Regions from separate parts of the Homo sapiens genome. Here region 1 is linked to region 2. The links come from fine-mapping of genetic effects on gene expression. A gene starts in region 2. The other region holds a variant in brackets. All regions are shown on one strand. Distances are between the middles of the regions.

Region 1 (11,296 bases), 160 kb before region 2:
AAAAAAAGAAAAAAAGAAAAAAAGAAGTCCAAAGATACTGCATCAATACCGTAAGTTGGATGCCCAGGGATTTTCTCTTTTTTTTTTCTTTCTTCTTTTTTTTCTTTTCTTTTTTGCTTCCATAGATTGAGGAACAGGTGGTGTTTGGTTACATGAATACATTCTTTAGTGGTGATTTGTGAGATTTTGGTGCACCCACCACCCGGGGGTTTACACTGCACCCAATTTGTAGCCTTTTATTCATCACCCCCTTCTCAGCATTTCCTCTAAGTTCCCAAAGTCCATTGTGTCATTCTTATGCCTTTGCATCCTCATAGATTAGCTCCCATTTATGACTGAGAACATACGATGTTTGGTTTTCCATTCCTAAGTTACATCACTTAGAATGATAAGATCAACTTCTGAGACACTTTGGAAACAGCCAAAACTTGAGCAGATAAATGCCCAGAAAAGCTTCAGCAGAGGGTCCTTGTCCATCACAACAATGCTCCTGCTCATTCCTCTCTTGAAACAAGGGCAATTTTACCAGACTTTTGATGGAAAATCCCTAGGCATCCAATCTCATCCATTTTTCTGCTAAAGATTTGACTAAATCTCTCCAAACTCCAAACTGTCTCATAAGTGGTTTTTACCATTCTTTGGCCCTCCAGAAAGTTAACAACCAGAAAACCTTTAGCATCCAAAAACACTGTTGGCATGATATTTGCTTTTGTTGCATTTACTTAGACTAGACCACTTCCACCTCTTGGTAGCCATTGCTTTCATTGTGTTTGTCCCTTTGAATGCCACTGGTAAAGCCATGTTTTATTTCCTGTTACAACTCTTCAAAGAAATGCTTTAGGATTTTTTTTTCTTTTCTTTTCCTTCCTACTTGTTTAATTTGTCACAGAACGTTCTCTTCTTGTCTGTAGCTGACAGGTACAGCAGTTTTGGCCCTCATCAAGTGGCTAGTTTGTTCGTATTTAGTTTTTTAGACAGAAAAAATTATGTAATCTGAATCAATTGTTCTTCTTGTGCTAGCTCTTTTTTCTGCTGTTGATTGTCAGACCTCTTCAATTAGGCCACAAGAAGATACAATTTTTGTCCGTAAGTTAATGTGAAGGGACTACTGCTGCAAGGTTCACCTTCACCATCATTTCAACACTTCTTTTTTTTTAATGTCAAGATCTTTATCTTTTTTATTATTATACTTTAATAATAATAATGGAGAAATAGGAACACTTTTACACGTTGGTGAGACTGTAAACTGGTTCAACCACTGTGGAAGACAGTGTGGTGATTCTTCAAGGATCTAGAACTAGAAATACCATTTGACCCAGCAATCCCATTACTGGGTATATACCCAAAGGATTATAAATCATGCTGCTATAAAGACACATGCACACGTATGTTTATTGCGGCACTATTCACGATAGCAAAGACTTGGAACCAACCCAAATGTCCATCAATGATAGACTGGATTAAGAAAACGTGGCACACACACACCATGGAATACTATGCAGCCATAAAAAATGATGAGTTCATGTCCTTTGTAGGGACATGGATGAAGCTGGAAACCATCATTCTCAGCAAAGTATCACGGGGACAAAAAACCAAACACTGCATGTTCTCACTCATAGGTGGGAATTGAACAATGAGAAAACTTGGACACAGGAAGGGGAACATCACACACTGGGGCCTGCCATGGGTTGGGGGGAGGGGGGAGGGATAACATTAGGAGATATACCCAATGGAAATGATGAGTTAATAGGTGCAGCACACCAACATGGCACATGTATACATATGTAACAAACCCTGTGCACATATACCCTAGAACTTAAAGTATAATAAAAAAAGAAAAGAAAATTAGACCATATCGCATTTGTACATCACATCCATCACAGTTTTTTATTACACTGGTAATCAGATTTGGATTTCATATGCCAGCTCCTTCATACCTATATGACTTTCTCTTTATTGAAAAGTGGGTGATTCTTTGAATAGGACAGAAAGCAGAATCTTCCTCAACTTCATCTTGAACTAGCTTGACTGCAACACAAGAGGGTTGTCTACCAGGAGAGATGAACATTAACAGAGTGGATGGACTTGTGATGTGATCGAGTAAATTGCATGAAGTCCCTATGGTCTGGGAGGGGTTCATGTGTATCAGAGGAATCCTGGTTACACAATTATGATACTGGTTCATATATTTTTATATTATGTTTTGTCTTAAAAACACATATTTCACAATTATTTTGCGGTATTCATATTCTATGAACATATTGTAGCCATGGCTGATTATAGTAAAAATATTTCTTAAGCATTTACTGTATGCCATTTAATCTTCAGAACCAGCTTATCAGGTAAGAATCCTGCATACTACCATCTCAATTTTATAGGTGAGCTGAGTGGGCACAAGCCAAAGTTGCTAAAATAGTAATAAGTGGTAGAGATGGCAGTCAGTCATCAGAGCCTATGTTCTTGCTTACTGTACTCCACCACTTTCTTGCTATTTACTTCTACATTTATTCACTTCCAAGAACGTCAGAAGAAACCAGGTCCAGAAAATAAACTCAGATACAAGTGATAGATAATGGGTAAGGTAAAACATGCCCTGAAAAAGCAGTCATAGAGAAGATATTGAGTATCAGAAACTACATGGAAAAATAGAAGTCAGAAGACAGCCCAACCGTGTTTTTTTGCTGTTGTTTCTTTTGGTTTTGCTTTTAGATGTATGTTTACTAATTAGACCTCAGATGGGGTTGTGTGTTAGTCCATTTCTACTGTAACAACAAGACTGTAGACTGGGTCATGATTAAAGAATAGAAATTTGTTTCCCAATGTTCCGTAGGCTAGGAAGTCTAAGATTAAGGCATCAACAGATTCAGTGTTTGGTGAGGGCTTCTGTTTGCTTCCAAGATGGTTCCTTGTTGCTGTGGTGGAATAAAGGTTTAAAAACTCTAGGTAAAAATAGCAATCAAACTAGAATCCTATATCCATTCAGGTAATCACTTAAGTGTGAAGGTCACATAACACATCTGGCAACACGAAAAACCTTGAAATAGTTTACTTCTCATATGCTGAAGCTATGCTAGCATATGTTTCACAGAAGAAGAAAACCAAGAAACAGGAAGACAGTAACTCAGGATATGCATTATCCTACTTAAAAGGGAGAAATGGGAATTTCCAGGACAAAAGCCAATTATCTGACATTTGAGAGTGAGGAAAATTGTGCTAGGTGGGATTTTGCAGGTCCGTTGGAAGTTGAAGGAAGACTTAGATGTTTTTAAAACAAAGCAAATGATTGAGAAAACAGGTAATTACTAAATTTGTTGTTGGGCATGTAAGTTTTGCAAGGACAGAAAGATAAATGTAATTAACATGTAAATTCAGGCACAGAGTAGTGTTGACATTGGTGACAGTAGAGAACAATCATGAACACAACACAAAGAAAGCCTCCTCATTCTAAAAAAAAGGAAAAAAAATCACTAGTGAAGGGACCTCAGTAGTTGGAGCTGTCATCTGACTTTCTAGCAAGGCTAAGTAGGAGGCAGAAGAACCATGCCTGTCACTCACCACTCTGGTCTCCATATAGAAATCAACTCTAGAACAGTGAGCTTGTTATAGAGGTCAGGTGCAGACTGAAGAATTGGAGGTGGGAGACTTTTCCTTCTTCTCTGTAGGTGTCTACTCCTCTGTTGCCCCCAAGGGGAGAGATGTTTAGAGATTCACTCCATAGAGCTGCTTCACATGGCAGCTGGGTGTTCCCAGTGCAAGTGCTGTCTGAGAGAAGGAGACAGAGGAAGAGAAAGAGACAGAGAGAAGGGGCGAATTGAAAAATAAAAGATGAAGCCACAGTTTCAATTTTAACTTAATCTCAGTGGTAACATACCACCATTTCTGCCATATTTTGCTGGTCACAGAAACCAATCCTGATATAATGTGGTGGGGACTACATAAGAGTGCTAATATTAGATAGTAGGAATATTGCATATGACTATCTCAAAGTGACAATGATTTGATAAATCATTAAAGAAAGTTTAAGAGAATAAGGGGTTCTGTGTATTCAAAGAAGACTTTAATGTGGGAAGATGTGAGCATACTTGAATAAAATGCAAACACATGCTTGATAAAGTTAGGAACAAACTTAGTATGTTGAAAGAATGTTAACAAGGCCAACTGTAGTGTCCAAAGAAATCAACAGATTCAATCTTTATCAAAATATCAATGTCATTTTTCACAGAATTGGTAAAAAATAATCCAACATTACTTACAGAAGGAAAACATAAGAGCCAAAAGACCCAAAGCAATCCTAGGCAAAATAAACAAATTTGGAAGTGTCGCATTGCCTGAATTCAAATTATACGACAAGACTGCAGTAATGAAAACAGGATATGACTGGTCTAAAAATAGGCACATAGATCAATGGAACAGAGTAAAAGATCCAGAAATAAAGCAACATATTTGCAGGCAACTGATCTTTGACAAAGCAGACAAGAACGCACACTTGGGAAACATCACTCATTTCAATAAATGATGCTGAGAAAATTGGATTGCCATATGCAGAAGAATGAAACTGGAACACTATCTCTCACATCTCTCATATAGAAAAATAACTCAGGATGGATTAAAGACTTAAATGTAAAATGTGGGCATATATTAATACAAGAAGAAAACTTCTGGACATTGGCTGAGAAAAGAACTTATGACTAAGACGTCAAAGCACAGGCAACAAAAATCAAATTGGACAAATGGCACTTAATTTATCTAAAATATTTTACAAGCAAAATAAATCAACAGTGTCAACAGGCAACATGCAGAGGGAAAATATTTGTAAACTATGCATCATACAGGGAACTAATATGCAGAGTATACAAGGAACTCAAACTACTCAGCAACAACAACAAAAAATCAATTAAAAATAGACAAAGGACATGAATAGATGTGTTTCAAAAGAATACATACAAACAGCCAACAGTAAATGAAAACATGTTCAACATCTCTAATCATTAGAGTAATGTGAATGAAAACCACAATGAGATATCATCTTACCTCAGTCATAATGACTATTATTAAAAGGGTGAAAAATAACAGCTGTTGGCAAGGATAGGGAGAAAGGAGAACTCTTAAACACCCTTGGTGAGAATATACATTAGTACAGCTTCTATGGAAAACAGTATGATTTCTCAAAGAACTAAAACTAGAACTACATTTCCATTGAGCAATCCTACTACTGGGTATCTCCTCAAAGGAAAAGTAGTCAATGTATCAAATATATACATTTATCTGTATGTTTATTGTAGCAACATTCACAGTAACAAAGATATTGAATCTACCAATGTATCTGTCAATGAATGATTGGATTAAAAAATGTAAATATATATACACAATACCATACTACTCAATTACAAAGAGAGAATGAAATCACACATATTGTGACAATATGGATGGAACTGGGAGTCATTTTCTTAAGCCAAAGAGGCTAGATACAGAAAATCAAATATAACACGTTCTCACTGTTAAGTGGTTGCTAAAGAATGTGTCTGCATGGATGTAGAGAGTGAAATGATAGACAAAGAACACTTGGGAGTATGGGAGGCAGAGCGGTTGTATAGTGAGGTATTAATAAATGTAGTGTTTGTTATTTGAGTGAGGAATACCCTAATGCTGTGACTTAAGTACTATGTAATCTATGTAACAAAATCAAAACTTGTATTTGTTCAAAAATATTTTTTTAATTAACAGAAAATCTAAGCATACTGCTTCCATACCCCACCATAAAAAAAAGACAATGACCAGCGTGGCCATAGCAGAATGAATTAGGTGTAGAGCATCCCCCAATTCCACAGAGAGTTAGGACTGAATACATCGGACTTTAGCATAGGTAAAAATTAGCAGGTGGGCGCACTGGCTCACCTCTGTAATCCCAGTGCTGTGGGAGTATGAGGCAGGTGGTTCCCAAGGTCAGGAGTTCAAGACAAGCCTGGCTAACTTAGTGAAACCCCTACTCAACTAAAAATACAAAAATTTAGCTGGGTGTGGTTGCGCACACCTGTAATCCCAGCTATTCAGGAGGCTGAGGCAGTAGAATCACTTGAACCCAGGAGGCAGAGGTTGTAGTGAGCTGAGAACTTGCCACTGCACTCCAGCCTGGGAAACAGAGGAAGACTCTGTCTAAAAAAAAAAAATACTGTCTGGTTCTTATA[G/C]AGTAAAAGTGGTGGCAATCAACTGGAAAACATAGAAAAGTAATATAATTTTTAAATGGCCAAGGTGGGTAATTGACTGTTGGGAAATAAATAGAACTATTTGGTGTAAACTGCAGGTGAGGCTTGCTTAGAGGGGCTGATAGAGATGAAAGTGATGAAACTGGCTGCAGTAGGAAATTATTTTGAAGCTTGAACGTCACAAAGATAACATAGCTGATTTGACTAGATGTAATGTGATGAAAGAGGAAAAGAGAAGAGTCAAGAATAAATCCTAGTTTGCTTAATTAATTAAATGAATTCTTTACCAAGACCAAAAAGAGCTGGAAGAGGAAGAACTTTGTAGCTGTAGGAGGGAAGAGGCAGAGATAGGAGAAACCCTAGGAGAGAGGGGGAGGCTCCTGGAAAGATTGATAGAGTGTTCCCAAAAGAAGGGTAGGATCAGTGGTGTTAAACTGCTGAGGGGTCACAGGAGATGCGGGACTGAGAGTTGATTCCTGAAATGAGTAGAATGGAGGCAGTAGATGATCTTTACAGACTTGAAGTGAAAAGAACAAAAGCATCTATAACGTGTACATATGAAAAATTTGGAGGTGGGGGAATGGGGAAATAATCACATACATACGTTTCAAGAACTTTTCCAATAAAAATGGCAGGCAAATAATATGGTGGGAAAGAAGCACTAAGAGTCTTAGGAAGACTTCTGTGGAAATGGGTGATGTTTCAGCAGGCTTTTGCTGATTGAAGTAATCCCATAGAGCATAGATGTAACAATCACAAGACAAAAGGGTCACATGCAGAAGCAAAATCCTTGATTGGGCAATGTGGTTCAGAATCAAGTGGGAAGGTGAGAGATAGGGGTAGGAATGCTTCACCTATGATAATAGGAGAGAAGCCAGAGACCAGGGCTGCAACTGGGTTGCTCAACTTAGTGGTGGTTATGGTGAGATCATTCTGTTCGGATTTTTCCGACTTCTTAGTGAATTATCTGAGGCTATCGGTGGGCACAGGGGCAGTTTTCTAATATTGAACCTTCCTTGCTTGAGAAGCAGACATGCCAGTCTCTGCAATGTTTTTGGTATATATGTTATCTCATTAGTTTCCATACTCTAAGGTAGTTGTTATGATTATTCTCATTTTAGATGAGGAATTTGAAGCCCTGAGAGTCTAAGTAAACTTTTAAGACTCCAGAGATAGTAAGAAAAACAGTTAGGTCTTAATTAAAACCTGAGAGTGTCCAAAATTTTTGCTTCTTAAAATCATGCTGTCTCTTTAATGAAGTCCATTCAGGTTTCGTTGAAGAAAGATGAGGAAAATAGGAAGGGAGAGAAGTGATCACTGTTAAAATAGGGTCAATGAGATAGAGAGGGTTCTGGGGATAAGAAGCATAGACCCATATTCATTCCCTTGAAACCAAACTCAGCTTCTTAGAAATTATAAGGATCTCTTTCAGCTTCTGTGACTTTTTTGCATTTGTTGTGTTTTCTGTCCTTAAGATCACTGGAATATCAGTAAACAATCAGAAAATAATTTTAAAATTTCAATTTATGCTGTAGAAGTCATGGAAGGGCCAGGCATGGTGGCTCGCACCTATAATCCTGGAAGTTTCAGAGGCCGAGGAAAGCGGATCACCTGAGGTCAGGAGTTGGAGACTAGCCTGGCCAACATGGTGAAACCCCGTTTCTACTAAAAATACAAAAATTAGCTGTGCATGATGGTGGGCATCTATAATCACAGATACTTAGAAGGCTGAGGCAGGAGAATAGCTTGAACCCAGGAGATGCAGAAGGCAGTGAGCCGAGATCGTGCCACTGCACTCCAGCCTGGGTGAAAAAAGCTCCATCTTGGAGGAAAAAAAATAGAAGTCAGGGAAGTAGAGAAACAGTAAAACCTTTTTGCATGGCAGCTGGCTAAATTAGGATTAAGGAGGAGGGAAACTTCCCGGAGCATCAAGGAAAAGGGTTCCTAGATATTCGTGTAATGTCTTCTCTTGGTCCTCAGATCCCACATTCACAAATATTGAGAAACAGACACCACAATCAGAAATTGCAAGCTAATTATTTTATTGGTATACAGAAGTTAGAGCTATGATGACCTTTTTCCAATGTCATGGCATTTGAATCATTTGAATCACTCTCATCTTCTTATTCACTTCCTGAAACAAACAAACAAGGAAGTTCATAGACCAGACTTGACATGGCAGGAAATGTCGAATTCCTCACTGGTCTTACTGCACTACAGTACATGAGAGCCCATCCTCTCTCCCCCTATCCCTTCTACCTCCTGTGTTTCCTCCCTAATTTTTTGTGTGTTCACTCTTTGGATGCCCTTGCACAAAATGTGCTCCAAATTGTTCCTTACGTGATGAAGACAGAAGATCATTCTTAGCTTATTATTACTTGCTGCTGAATTTGTTCACAGATATATTTACACAGATGGGAACTGGAACATATTTTATAACAGTGAGAAGCTGAAACCACCCTCAGTGTCCAGTGACACAGATTGGTTAAAGAAATCACGGTGCAGCCACATAATGGAGTAGTATAAAATGGTAAAAACAAACAGATAACCACTGAAGAGATCTACTTAGCTTCATAGACGTATGTGGAAATTTTCAAAGAAATGTATTTTTTAAATGACTAACATATGTACCTGAATATAAATTATGGTATTAGTTCTGGGGGAAAAATATTCTAGTAGTCTATGTACACATAAATATTTCAAACAGAAGATGCCATAAAGTTAACAGTGGCAGTTTTCTGAAGGAGGGGAGGCAGGTAGGATGAGTCATGCCTTTAAATTTAGATTCATATTTTTCCATTGCATTAGATATTTTTTGTTAGCTTAATCATGTACTTATTGAACAGTAAGAATTTGAAAAATGAGACACCATTTAGCTGCTGAAAGTTCAGGGACCACTTGGCAGGAATACTGGACTCAAGAGGCTGGTGTGAGGCAGGACTGAGCAAACAGTGCTCAGGTGAAAACTTTAAATGGGAGGTCTCTCAGTTTGTGCACAGAAAACAGAGCGCCAGAGAGAACATGGTACTACTTCCTTGTTGCCAACACAACTTAAGACAGATTATTTGGAATTTTGTTTCTCAACATCAGAATTCCTTAAAGAGTTTGTTACAAATATAGGATCTTGTTACCCATTTCCAGAATATGTCAATACAAATCTTTAGAAATGGGATCTGGGACTATACAATGCCAATGGGCTTTTAGCTGATTCATTGGCACAATAAAGCTGGAGAGCTGTAGCAATTAGAGCACTTGGTGAAGAATAAACTGGAATCATACCTGTCATTGAATCCTAGATGACTGGGGAGGCTGTCACTGGGGAGGTCTGGAAGGTCTGCCCCCTTGAGGAGGGCGTGGTGGTCCCTGGGGCTGTCCAGCAGGAGGTGCCTGAGGCTGCTGGGGATTGCCTCCTGCTGGAGGTGGGGGACCTTGAGGATTGTTGCCTTCTTGTTGGGGTGGTCCTTGTGGCTTTCCTGGAGGAGATCGGGCACTTCGGGACTTGCTGCCTCCTTGTGGGGGTGGTCCTTGTGGCTTTCCTGGAGGTGGGGGACCTTGAGGTTTGTTGCCTCCTTGTGGGGGTGGTCCTTGTGGCTTTCCTGGAGGAGGTGGGGGACCTTGAGGCTGGTTGCCTCCTTGTGGGGGTGGTCCTTGTGGCTTTCCTGGAGGAGATCGAGAACTTCGGGACTTGCTGCCTCCTTGTGGGGGTGGTCCTTGTGGCTTTCCTGGAGGTGGGGGACCTTGAGGTTTGTTGCCTCCTTGTGGGGGTGGTCCTTGTGGCTTTCCTGGAGGAGGTGGGGGACCTTGGGGCTGGTTGCCTCCTTGTGGGGGTGGTCCTTGTGGCTTTCCTGGAGGAGATCGGGCACTTTGGGACTTGTTGTCTCCTTGTGGGGGTGGTCCTTGTGGCTTTCCTGGAGGTGGGGGACCTTGAGGTTTGTTGCCTCCTTGTGGGGGTGGTCCTTGTGGCTTTCCTGGAGGAGGTGGGGGACCTTGGGGCTGGTTGCCTCCTTGTGGGGGTGGTCCTTGTGGCTTTCCTGGAGGAGATCGAGAACTTCGGGACTTGTTGTCTCCTTGTGGGGGTGGTCCTTGTGGCTTTCCTGGAGGTGGGGGACCTTGAGGTTTGTTGCCTCCTTGTGGGGGTGGTCCTTGTGGCTTTCCTGGAGGAGGTGGAGGACCTTGAGGCTGGTTGCCTCCTTGTGGGGGTGGTCCTTGTGGCTTTCCTGGAGGAGATCGGGGACTTCGGGACTTGTCTCCTTGTGGGGGTGGTCCTTGTGGCTTTCCTGGAGGTGGGGGACCTTGAGGTTTGTTGCCTCCTTGTGGGGGTGGTCCTTGTGGCTTTCCTGGAGGAGGTGGGGGACCTTGAGGCTGGTTGCCTCCTTGTGGGGGTGGTCCTTGTGGCTTTCCTGGAGGAGATGGGGGACCTTGAGGTTTGTTGCCTCCTTGTGGGGGTGCTCCTTGTGGATTTCCTGGAGAACAAAGAGAGAAGAGAAAGACAGAGTAAAAGCCCATACAAGATTCCCTGAATAGTTGCAGTAAATTTTTATCAGTTTGGGTAACAAGCTGAGTGGGGAAACACACAAAAATGAGACCAAGACATTAATTTCTTTGCATTTCAGTGAAGACATAGAACTCTGGAGTGGAGCGCCAGGGAAGAACAAAGCAGTTGAGGGCCTCTCATTATAAAGAGGAGACAGAATGAGGATGCTGCCCATTTGTCTGTCATCTCCCAGCAGGCACTCCTGGCCAGGGGGATGAGGTAACCCACTCCTGCTGTCATCTAAGCCAAGCATCTCTGCCGTTCAATTTGGTGGCCTGCTCATGATGCCCAGAATCAAGGTTGCATGAAGAGTGCCTATATTATTAGGAGCACTAACATTAATCAATTCCCGAAAGGAAAGTTTTGATAAGAAGACACTGGAGAACTGATCCATTCATAAGCAGAAAAAGACAGTCAGAACAGATTGAGAATGAATCGGGATTTACCTGCTATTAGGGAGGGAGATTCTTCCTGGCTGACATCTAGAAGAGAAGCACAGGATGATGGGAACAGTTACATCTTGAACCTTACAAGACTCACAAGTGTTCTACAGGGAAAA
Region 2 (11,296 bases):
GACACAAACATTCGTCTACAGCATGGGTGGAAACCCATTTCTTCCTCACCGTCTGTATGGATTGCACGCTGCAGCCATCGAGACAGTGGGCATGTTCTCCTTACAACTCGATCTGACTCCCCTAGAAGAGGGGGCAGGGAAGGAGGGCAAAGCTGGGAGAGATGAAGAATATTAAGAAGAGAATAGGGTAGCCAGATTTAGCAAATAAAAATATAAAATGCCTAGTTCTGAATTTAAAATATAAAATGCCTAATTCTGAATTTCAGATAAAGAACAAATAATTTTTTAGTGTAAGTATGTCCCAAACTAAGCATGGCAAAGGACATGTTTATGCTAAAAAATTATGTATTATATAATAATAAATTATTATTATTTTCTGCAAGTCACATTAACTGGGCATCCTGTATTTTTATCTGGCAACCCTAAAAGAGAAGGGCCAAAAACTGTTGAGAAAAGTCAGTGGATTCCAGGAGGGACTATTGCTGGATTTCTGGACTGATGCTCGCTTTATAATACTTAACTGTTTTTAGCCCCTTCCCTCCCTCTCTCCCTCCCTCCCTTCCTTCTTTTCTTTCTTTCTTTCTTTCTTTCTTTCTTTCTTTCTTTCTTTCTTTCTTTCTTTCTTTCTTTCAGATAAGCTCTCACTCTCTCACTGAGGTTGGAGTGTAGTGGCACAATCTCAGCTCACTGTGGCCTCAACCTCCCAGGATCATGTGATCCTCCCACCTTAGCCTCCTGAGTAGCTGGGATTGCAGGTGTGCACTACCATGCCCAGCTAATTTGTGTATTTTTTGTAGAGATGGGGTCTCACTATGTTGTTGAGGCTGGTCTTGAACTCCTGGGCTCGAGCAATCTGCCTGTCTCAGCTTCCTAAAGTACCCAGATTACAGGCATTAACCACCACACTCAGAAACTTCTATTTTTAAAAGCCATGGTCTCTTTAGGTGTTCTCTATCACTCTAAGTCAAAACTATTCCTTAAACATACAGGGCTCGAAGTGTTGATCTCCTGGAGAGCCTGGTCACCTCCAAGCCATAGGGCTTACAGTAGGCTGTCTTCAAACAAGCAAGGAAGTAATAGGCTTTCTACCGCAACTCAGATCTAGGTTTCAGGACTCATTCTAGGGACAGCTGCAACTGCCAAGTAGACTATGAGGAAACTTTCTCAGTGTTCTAGAAAAAAAAAAATGGAGGAGAAGGTGGGGAGGGGGAAGGAGAAAGAGAGTTAAAACAAAACAAAGAGAAAGACGGAGAAAATTAATGATTATATCAGGCCTCTCCCAACTCCCTCCTCTTTCCCTGGAGCACAGGACTAAATGTTAAGAAGAGAAGGATGAGATTTCTACCATAACTGAGGAAAACTACAAAACATGAGAGTCTGAAGAGACAATAAGGAAGATAGAGGCCAATCCTGTAATTTTTCAGATGAAGAAAGTAAGGCCCAGGGAGAAGAAATTACTGTATTCAGATCACACAGTTATAAGGATTCGAGCCAATACTGGATCTTAACCCAGTGTTTACTATTCTGTGCAGTGTTCCATTATTCGTGGATTGCTAACAATGAAAGAAAGCATAGAAATGATATAGTTCAACCTCCTTATTTTAAAATAAGAAAAGATATATTGAGAGAGGTCAAATAATTTGCTCAAAGTCACAGTTGGCTTTTTGCTACCAATCCAAGCTTCTTTTCCCTAGTCTTTGCATATACACACAACAATGTTTTGAATAATTTCAAAATTATTTCAAAAATTAACCCAGAGTAAATGTACTTATTCAGGAAAGTAGTGGAAATAGGAAATATAGCAAACATAAAAACACCTCACCCCTATGACTCAATTTATACTGGTCCATGAACAGTTAACAGTTTTCAACACTTAACACTTCTCTTCCCGTGCTAGCTGGCAGCCAGAGTTATTCTGCAAAACTGTGTTTCCAAGTCCTCAAGAGGAATACATGTGTAAGTGTGCTTTAAATTTGCAAATGTTTTATCTTTGAGATCCTTAAACAGTAACACTATTAATCTTCATCTTCAAGCTGCTAAGTTTGTTATGATATGTTTATACGTGTGTGTGTGTGTGTGTGTGTGTGTGTCTACGCAGAACTTTTTTTGGCTGGTCATGTGACTCCTAGAACTGTATCCTTCCATCCACTATGCATTTCCCTATGTAAATAATATTAGCTTTCACTGGTGATGGCAACAAGACAGAAGGAATGAGGTCAAGGAGGAAATAAATTTGGATAGAAAGAAGCCGTCAAAACCCTGTGAATAAAATTCACAAGCGAGTTTCGGTGACTCATAAGAGCACAGAGAGGAGACACAGGGATTATTCAGGAGCAGGTTCCTGTAGGGTAGCAGGAGCTGCACAGCAGGAGTGTGGAGGGGCACAGGTCAGCACCAGGATGCACCAAGGGCACCTGGGAAGTGCTGAGGGCCAGGCCACACTTAACTCGGGTCTGTGCCCTGCAGTGGGAAGAAGCCTCAGAGTATTTTCATCCTGCGAATCTCCTCTGTGCAAGAAAAGACCAGTTGATGTCCTTGAAAACTTTCCTATTTGACCAGTTCATTCTTATTTCAAAATTTTATATTATTATATTTTTTAGAGACAGGGTCTCGCTATGTTGCCCAGGCTGGACTCGAACTCCTGAGCTCAGTGAGACTCCCACCTCAGCCTCCTGAGTTGCTACCATGCCCAGCTTGCCCAGTTCATTTTTAATGAGGCCAAACACATTGGTCATGCAGCTCACAAACAAAAGGGAATGTCTGTAGTTCTGGTCAGTCACAAACTCATTGTACTTTACAGAGAAAACTCCATGCAGAATGTTGAAATATCATCCTCTAAAGGTTGACTCTAAGTATACAGAAGCAGTGTAGGGGCACAGACAGCTCAGTTGAGCACTCAGCACATCAAACAAGAAAGCATGTGGTGGTTTCCCTCTACCCAGAGCAGGGTCTGATACGGAGGAGCAAGCCTGGACTTTGTCCTTGGGCAAATTGCCCCATTAGGGGAGGAAGGAGCCCACTCTCCAGACTTTCTGGTTTGAAGCAGTACCTGGGTCTGAGCAGAGTGAGGAACACTTCCTGCTACAGCCAAACTAGACTAGCCTGGGCCCTGAGATCCATGACCTCACATGTGCCTTTTTCTCCAGGCACACTGGAAAGCTTAGTCCCCCCGCCCCCGTGACTGTCTGTTCCCGAGATAGTCCCTTTGCATGGAGAATCCGTGCCCATCCCACCCACCCCCACACCATAAAAAGTCAATGTTAGAAGGTTTGAATGGATTTAGTGATCATGCACTCCAACCCTGCCTATCTGTTCATCAAAGTCCACTTCAAATACCACTTTATAAAGACATTGTGGTTCTTCTGTCTCCCAATTCATTATTACTTTGGTGCTCTGTTATGGTATACATCACATTCAGTCTTGTATTAGAGTTGTTTGTGTACATATTTTCTGCCCTCACTCCAAGGCCAGCTTAAAACTTATAAATCTTAAAATATTTTGGCCTCCTAAAAATTAAACAGTATCATTCATAGTTTCCACTATTAAATATTTTATGCTTTTGGAATAAAATATGTCATTCTTCACCCCCTCTCCCAAAAACCCCAAAACTTTGTTCCTCTGCTTTTCTAGTTTCCCGTGTGCTGCTTAGTGGGTTTTCCAGCAGCCCTGGTCCCAAGCACATGAGGGACTGTTAGCATTTTCAAGACAAAAGTATCCTTAACTCCTCTTCATGAGCCTGCGAAGATTAAACACGGAGCTCAGAACACAGTATGAACACAATAGATGTATGATGAAATGAATAGGGCTAGCATTAACTAATGAGAGCTCCTCAATGATGAGCAAGAAGAAGGTGAAATCATGCCATCCAAGGCTTCCCAGTGCCCCTGGAGACCACACAGCCCCTTTACACAGGAAATGACGTGATTCCTGATAAGCAAGCAGTACACACTGCACAGCTTCCTTCCCTTCCTCCCCCTGCCACTCAGCACCTTTGGCAAATAGCGGCCTGCCTTCAGCCTTCATTAGGAAAGCCTTCATTAGGCCTGCCTTCTTCTCTTCATTCATGAGAGAGTGGCATTAACAGTGCACAAACTAATGCTTCTTCAAATTTTTCTGGGGTCTGCTGCTGCTACTGCTAAAATCCGCTTGCCTTCGGACACAGTTTCTCAAATGGCTTAAAAGCTTCTCTGCTTTTGATCCCTGCAGCATCACTTTCTACTCCCTCAATCAGAAACCAGAAGCTACCCACCCCCATTTCCTGTGTTCATGATAGTAGAAAGCAACAGAGAACAGTTGGCCCCTGAGCTGCCAGGTTGTGGGCTGGGTAGGGAGGATCCATTGCAGGAGCATTGGAAAGCCTTGAGCACTCTGCCCTGCCTGTCCACACAGCAGCACCTTCACAGCCTTCTAGTAGTTCTGATCAGATTTCTGCCTCTTAAAGCGGCCCCACAGACTAAAAGCCATCATCTGGAATTTGGAGTAAAAGGGCCCACAGGAAATGAAGCACTCTAAGAAAATTCAGCTGGGCAGGTATTTTAAGGTCACTGACTGACTCCAAAGTGAAGGTAGAACCCATATTGACCGCAATTCATCACACTTCTGTAACTTCAGAACTCACTGCTGACTGGTGGAGAAGGTTGCAATTGCATTCAGTCCGAATCTCTGAACATATTATTTAGAAATATTAGCTTATCCAGCTGCCTACGGAGCTTCCCATCTGGGCTTTCAGTTGCTACATTCTCTAAAGCCGTATCTGACCCACACCTTACTAACACTATGTGCTTCTACAGCATTCACCCAGTGTTACAGCTCTTTTAGAATCTGTCTAGCAGGTTTTCCAGTCTTCACTGGAAAGCCCTTGCCCCCAAATATAAAAAAATAATAAGGCATTCACCCCTGAACTTTAGCAGGGCTTCCAATCGCCTTTAAGCACTCATTTAAAAGAAAAGTCTTTTATTCCCTTATAATAGTATTAAATCATTAGCAAATGATTCTCAAAACTATTTTTTGAGTGCTCTCTTCTGTGTGAGAATGTAGGAAATGATGACCAAGTATACGAAGTTGGACATGCCTAGTCCCAGGTGGCCTTTTCCTATTGGCACAGCTGCTGGCATTCACCCGTGCAAGCTTCTAGCTTGCTTGTCTATGTCTGCAGCTTGATTTTACAGGCTGCTCATTGTAAGAAAAGAAAACGATTTGAGGGCTGCTTTTCATTAAAAGGAAAACCTTACTGAGGACTTCCTTACCCTCACTATCTGCCTAAATAATTTCTTCTTAACTCCTATATCACTTATAAGAGGAGAAAGCAGACACACAGGGGGAACTCAGTGTGACAGCACAGGCGGAGCCTGGAGGGATGCCCAGGAATGCCAAAGAGACGCACAGACTGGTTTCTCTCTCACAGCCCCCAGAAAAACCTAACCCTGCCAGTGAGAGGTGACAGCGTGCTGGCAGTCCTCACAGCCCTGCTCGCTCTCGGCGCCTCCTCTGCCTGGGCTCCCACTTTGGCGGCACTTGAGGAGCCCTTTAGCCCACCGCTGCACTGTGGGAGCCCCTTGCTGGGCTGGCCAAGGCCGGAGCCGGCTCCCTCAGCTTGCAGGGAGGTGTGGAGGGAGAGGCGCGGGCGGGAACAGGGGCTGCGCGCGGTGCTTCCGGGCCAGCGCGAGTTCCGGGTGGGCGTGGGCTCGGCGGACCCAGCACTCGGAGCGGCAGGCCGGCCCCACCAGCCCGAGCAGTGAAGGGCTTATCACCTGGGCCAGCAGCTGCTGTGCTCAATTTCTCGCCAGGCTTTAGCTGCCTTCCCGCGGGGCAGGGCTCGGGACCTGCAGCCCGCCATGCCTGAGCCTCCCCCACCTCCGTGGGCTCCTGTGCAGCCGGAGTCTCCCCGACAAGCGCCACCCCCTGCTCCGCGGAGCCCAGTCCCATCGACCACCCAAGGGCTGAGGAGTGCAGGCACACGGCACCGCACTGGCAGGCAGCTCCACCTGCAGCCCCGGTGGGGGATCCACTGGGTGAAGCCAGCTGGGCTCCTGAGTCTGGTGGGGACGTGGAGAACCTTTATGTGTAGCTCAGGGATTGTAAATACACCAATGGGCACTCTGTATCTAGCTCAAGGTTTGTAAACACACCAATCAGCACCCTGTGTCTAGCTCAGGGTTTGTGAATGCACCAATGGACACTCTGTATCTTGCTACTCTGGTGGGGACTTGGAGAACCTTTGTGTGGACACTCGGTATCTAGCTAGTTTGGTGGGGACGTGGAGAACCTTTGTGTCTAGCTCAGGGATTGTAAACGCACCAATCAGCGCCCTGTCAAAACAGACCATTGGCTCTACCAATCAGCAGGATGTGGGTTGGGCCAGATAAGAGAATATAAGCAGGCTGCCCGAGCCAGCAGTGGCAACGCGCTCGGGTCCCCTTCCACACTGTGGAGGCTTTGTCCTTTCGCTCTTTGCAATAACTCTTGCTACTGCTCACTCTTTGGGTTCACACTGCCTTTATGAGCTGTAACACTCACCGCGAAGGTCTGCAGCTTCACTCCTGAAGCCAGCGAGACCACGAACCCACCAGAAGGAAGAAACTCCAAACACATCTGAACATCAGAAGGAACAAACTCCGGACACGCCGCCTTTAAGAACTGTAACACTCACGCGAGGGTCCGCGGCTTCATTCTTGAAGTCGGTGAGACCAAGAACCCACCGATTCCGGACACACCAGCACCCGGATCTCAGACCTCTGGCCTCCGGAACTGTGAGAGAGTAACTTTCTGCTGTTTTAAGATACCCAGCTTGTGGTCATTTATTACAGCAGCCCTAGCAAACGAACCCAGTGTGGTTTGCAACTTCAGTTATAGCATCTACCATCAGCCCAATTCAAAAGACCATTTATTTAATCAGCAACGTTTCCCCCGTCACTCCTTATGGGGCAGTATCCACTGTAGGCTACTGATTCTACTTAGTGCTTTAAGTCAGCGTTGCCAGAATCATACTGAAACACATACCTGGGGCTTCTAGGGCATCTCCTAGTCAGCCTTGTCAAAATCAACAGTTTTGAAAATACGCTCTATGGCAGTCCTGAATTCCACAGGGGTGGAATTCAGAGCCGCTCTCCTCTTGTTTGTCGTATTTTATAAAATGGATATTTAATTCTGTTTCACTATTTGCTTTCATTACTAAAATTTCCCAAAATACATGAAAATAGAGGGTACTCGAAAAACCCAACTTTAAATAAAATAACCGTGAGTATTCTGCCATACTTGTTTCTGTGTTAATATAAGAATTTATTTGAAGAGTTCTGCTATAATGTTTTTAAATACTGGTTTCAATAACTCTCTTCCAATACAGATTACACTTTGTTAGCTCCAATAATTGCTGCATGGTGAATTTAGTCTATTGAAAAGGAAGTGTCAGGTCTGAGTGCCAATTATTGTACTTGACCCAAGGTAACTCTCTTTCAAGGTACTGCGTTGGGTTCCCACTGAATTATTTTACCACATTCGAAATCCTTCATCAGAAATTCAATGTCTTTTATTATGATACATGAAATGATCTAATAAATCTCACTGCACACTGTTACTTTGATTTCTCCAATGAACCACACCTCTCAGAATGCACGCCCTTGTATAGTCCCCTCTCATGGTGACAGCAGGCTTAGCCTTGTGACTAGCTTTGACAATGGGGATATTAGCAAGCATGATGCAAGTGGATTCTGATAAGCTTGATGCTGTATTTATTTGCTTTGGCTGCCATAATAAATGATCACAAACTGGGTATCTTAAAACAGCTCCTTTTTCAGATGTTTCTCCACATTCTTCCAAGGCAAAAAGAAAAGAAAAAGAAATACACACAGACACATACATATATGTTTCAGTTCAATAAGTTTTTGTTGTGTTTTGTTTTGTTTTGTTTCAGACAGAGTCTTGCTCTGTCGCCCAGGCTGGAGTGATGAGGCGCGATCATCACTCCACCTGGGCTCACTGCACCTCCGCCTCCCGGGTTCAAGCGATTCTCCTGCTTCAGCCTCCTGAGCAGCTGGGATTACAGGTGAGTGCCACCATGCCCAGCTAATTTTTGTATTTTTCTTAGTAGAGACAGGGTTTCACCATTGTTCGTCAGGCTGGTCTCGAACTCCTGACCTCATGATCCACCCACCTCGGCCTCCCAAAGTGCTGGGATTACAGGCGTGAGCCACCGCGCCCAGCCTCAATAAGTATTTATTAAGTGTATAACACATGGCAGAAACTGTGCTAGATACTGAAACTATAATGGCAAAAATCAATTCCTGTCCTCTGAATTGGTTACCTAGTAGAGAAGACAGACATGTAAACAAATATAGTGGAGAGTGACATAGGCAATAATAAAACTATGTATAAGAAATCCAATTAGTATGGATAATTAACAACTAATGGTTGGAAAGAAGTGTCAAAAAAAGCTTCTTAGATACAGTGACACCTGAGCAGGATTTCTAAGGGTGCACTGGGGAAAGAGGTTCATAAATCAAGGGAGCATCATACTGAAATGGTAGTGATGGAACATGGTATATGCAGACAACTACAAAAATTCACTTCTACTGATAGTCCAAGGGAGGAAGGCATGAATATGAGAATGGAGGTATGGACAGAGGCCAGGTCAGGGTAAGTTAGAGAGCTTACTTAACCTTGTAGAAAATGACGAGCCATTGGAGACTTTAAAGAGAAATAACATAGTCATATTCTTGTTGTGAAAGATCATCTGGGCTGCTATGTGCAGGACAGATTACCAGGAACAAAACCAGAAGCACCTGTTCAAGCCTGAATTCTAGTCACAGAAGTAAAGCTGAAGAGGAGAAAATGGATGTGAGCAATATCCAAAAGGGAAAATAATAATATACACATAAGGAATAGGGAAGAGAAGAGCAAAAATAATTTCCTATTTCGCCTTCCCTTCTTTTGGAGTTGGAACACTCAAATGGTGTGATGGGTGGCACTGGGGCTAAGGGGACAAGGCTGGCCCAGCTGGGAGATTGCTTACATGCAGGAGGATCAAGTGAATGAGTCAACGTATCAAGGAGACTGGGAATGCAATTTCTCACTGTTGAAGAAAGGAGTTACAAATATGCAAAGGGGAAAATGTGATACTGGATTGGAATTGAAGGCATTAGTCCGAAGTTATGGATTTTAAAGATAGGAATGTGACAGATGATAGATAGGTAGGGATAGACAGGTAAATTGAGAAGTAGAAATGTATGAATGTGTTATATTTCCTAGTCCAGGAGCAATGACACCCCAGTTGCAATGAGCATCCTAGCATTTAGATCTCAGTTTCTAAATACCTTTTTCCACTAAAAGGAACCAGGGCTGGGGCAGGGAAAGAACAAGATGACCCTGGAACTCTATTGTACTGAAAGTAAGGAAGCCCTCAGATAATTATGAGGACATGTCTAAAGGACACAGGAGTGGCTCACGCCTGTAATCCCAGCACTTTGGGAGGCCAAGGCGGGTGGATCACAAGGTCAGGAGATCCAGACCATCCTGGGTAACACGGTGAAGTCCCATCTCTACTGACAATACAAAAAAATTAGCCAGGTGTGGTGGCGGGCGCCTGTAGTCCCAGCTACTCGGGAGGCTGAGACAGGACAATAGCGTGAACCCAGGAGGTGGAGCTTGCAGTGAGCCGAGATCACACCATTGTGCTCCAGCCTGGGCAATAGAGTGAGACTTCCTCTCAAAATAAATAAATAAATAAATAAACACAGGAGCCAACTTCATGGGGCTCCAGTTGTCCACATCTAGGTCATTTTGTGGATCAAAATAAAAAATGATAGTAACTGATTATAATTCATTGAAAAATCAAATCTCATGAATCCATACTTATATAATACATGAATGAATAAATATGAGAGAGAAGAGAGAGCTCTAACTTATAGTAAATGCCAACTAATCAATGTAAATATAATTATGGAATTAGAAAATTGTTATTATTTTGAGACAGGGTCTTGCTCTGTCACCCAGGTTGGAGTGCAGTGGTGCAGTCACAGTTCACTGCAGCCTCAACCTGCTGGGCTCAAGCAATTCTCCCACCTCAGCCTCCCAAGTAGCTGGGACTTCAGGCGTGTGCCACCACACGGCTATTTTTGTATTTTTTGTAGAAATGAGGTTTCATCATGTTGCCCAGGCTGGTCTCAACTCCTGGGCTCAAACAATCCACCTCAGCCTCCCAAAGTGCTGGGATAATAGGCATGAGCCACCACACCCAGCCAGAAAATTATTATTTTGCAACCATTATAGTTATAACTAATTTAGATAGAATCATCATTGGATGGAAAAGCTAGTAGGTGAAAATTTGATGAGGAAATGGATACAATCTCAAAGTATCTCCCCCAAAATATTTAGTGCTTATTAGTAGTTTAGAAATACAAATTACTTACTAGTTAGCTCTATAGCATAGAAACCTAGCCAATATCATCTTAATCGAGTGCTAACATATAATGTTGTCTATAAACAGGATAAATCTATATTAAGTTACTCTAACAAACTGAGAAAACACAGCATCATTTCTGTGAACGTCCTGCCAAAAACGCACCACCCAAATCTGACAATAAGGTAACATCAGACAAACCCAAACTGAGGGACATTCTACGAAGTAATTAGCCTGTTCTCTTTAAAAACACCCAGGTTATGAAAAACAAGGAAAGAATGAGAAAATGTTCCTGATTAAGGGAGACTAACAGAGATATAATGACTAAACACAACACATGATCCTGGGTTGGATTCTGGAATTATAAAGAACGTTATTGTAAAATTGGTGAAATCTGAATGGAGTCTACGGATTGTGGCTTTATTACATCAATGTTAAATTCCTGATCTTTTTCATTTCTTTTTCCTTTCTCTTTTTTTTTTTTTTTTTTTTTTTTTTTGAAACAGAGTCCCTGTCATCCAGACTGGAGTGCAGTGGTACAATCCCGGCTCACTGCAACCTCCACCTCCTGGGTTCAAGCGATTCTCCTGTCTCAGCCTCTCAAGTACCTGGAATTACAGGCATGTGCCACCGCACCCCATGTAATGTCCCGATCTTGATGGATGCACTCTGGTTATAGAAATGTCCTCATTTTAAGGAAATACATGCCAAAGTAGTAAAGGCTCATGGGGCATCATATTTGCAACTGTTCTCACCTGGTTCAGAAAAATTTAAGAGCAATAATACGTATAAATGTGTAGATAGAATAAGAAGACAAACATGGTAAAATGTTAACAACTGGGGAATCCGGATGAAAGGTGTACGGAAGCTCTTGTGCTACTACACCTGCAACTTTTCCATAAG

Evidence for each region.
Region 1: its variant is fine-mapped to the expression of LINC01252 in sun-exposed skin (GTEx, PIP 0.98).

The regions. Positions count from the first base shown.
Region 1 is chr12:11,383,312-11,394,607 of GRCh38, forward strand. PRB2 (proline rich protein BstNI subfamily 2) reads right to left here. Exons shown (of 4, transcript NM_006248.4): 2 at 11,184-11,219; 3 at 9,483-10,666; 4 at 8,229-8,337. The coding sequence ends at 9,516. Among named protein-coding and RNA genes, the nearest start is that of PRB2, 6.6 kb to the right of the region's middle. The variant G/C (reference allele first, on the strand shown) is at 6,186.
Region 2 is chr12:11,541,681-11,552,976 of GRCh38, forward strand. LINC01252 (long intergenic non-protein coding RNA 1252) reads left to right here and starts at 6,350. Exons shown (of 8, transcript NR_033890.1): 1 at 6,350-6,680; 2 at 7,910-8,041; 3 at 10,900-11,013. The region is part of intron 2 of LOC124902877 (a long non-coding RNA gene); the gene reads right to left. It also overlaps the pseudogene RNU7-60P. RefSeq lists an enhancer at 2,826-2,885.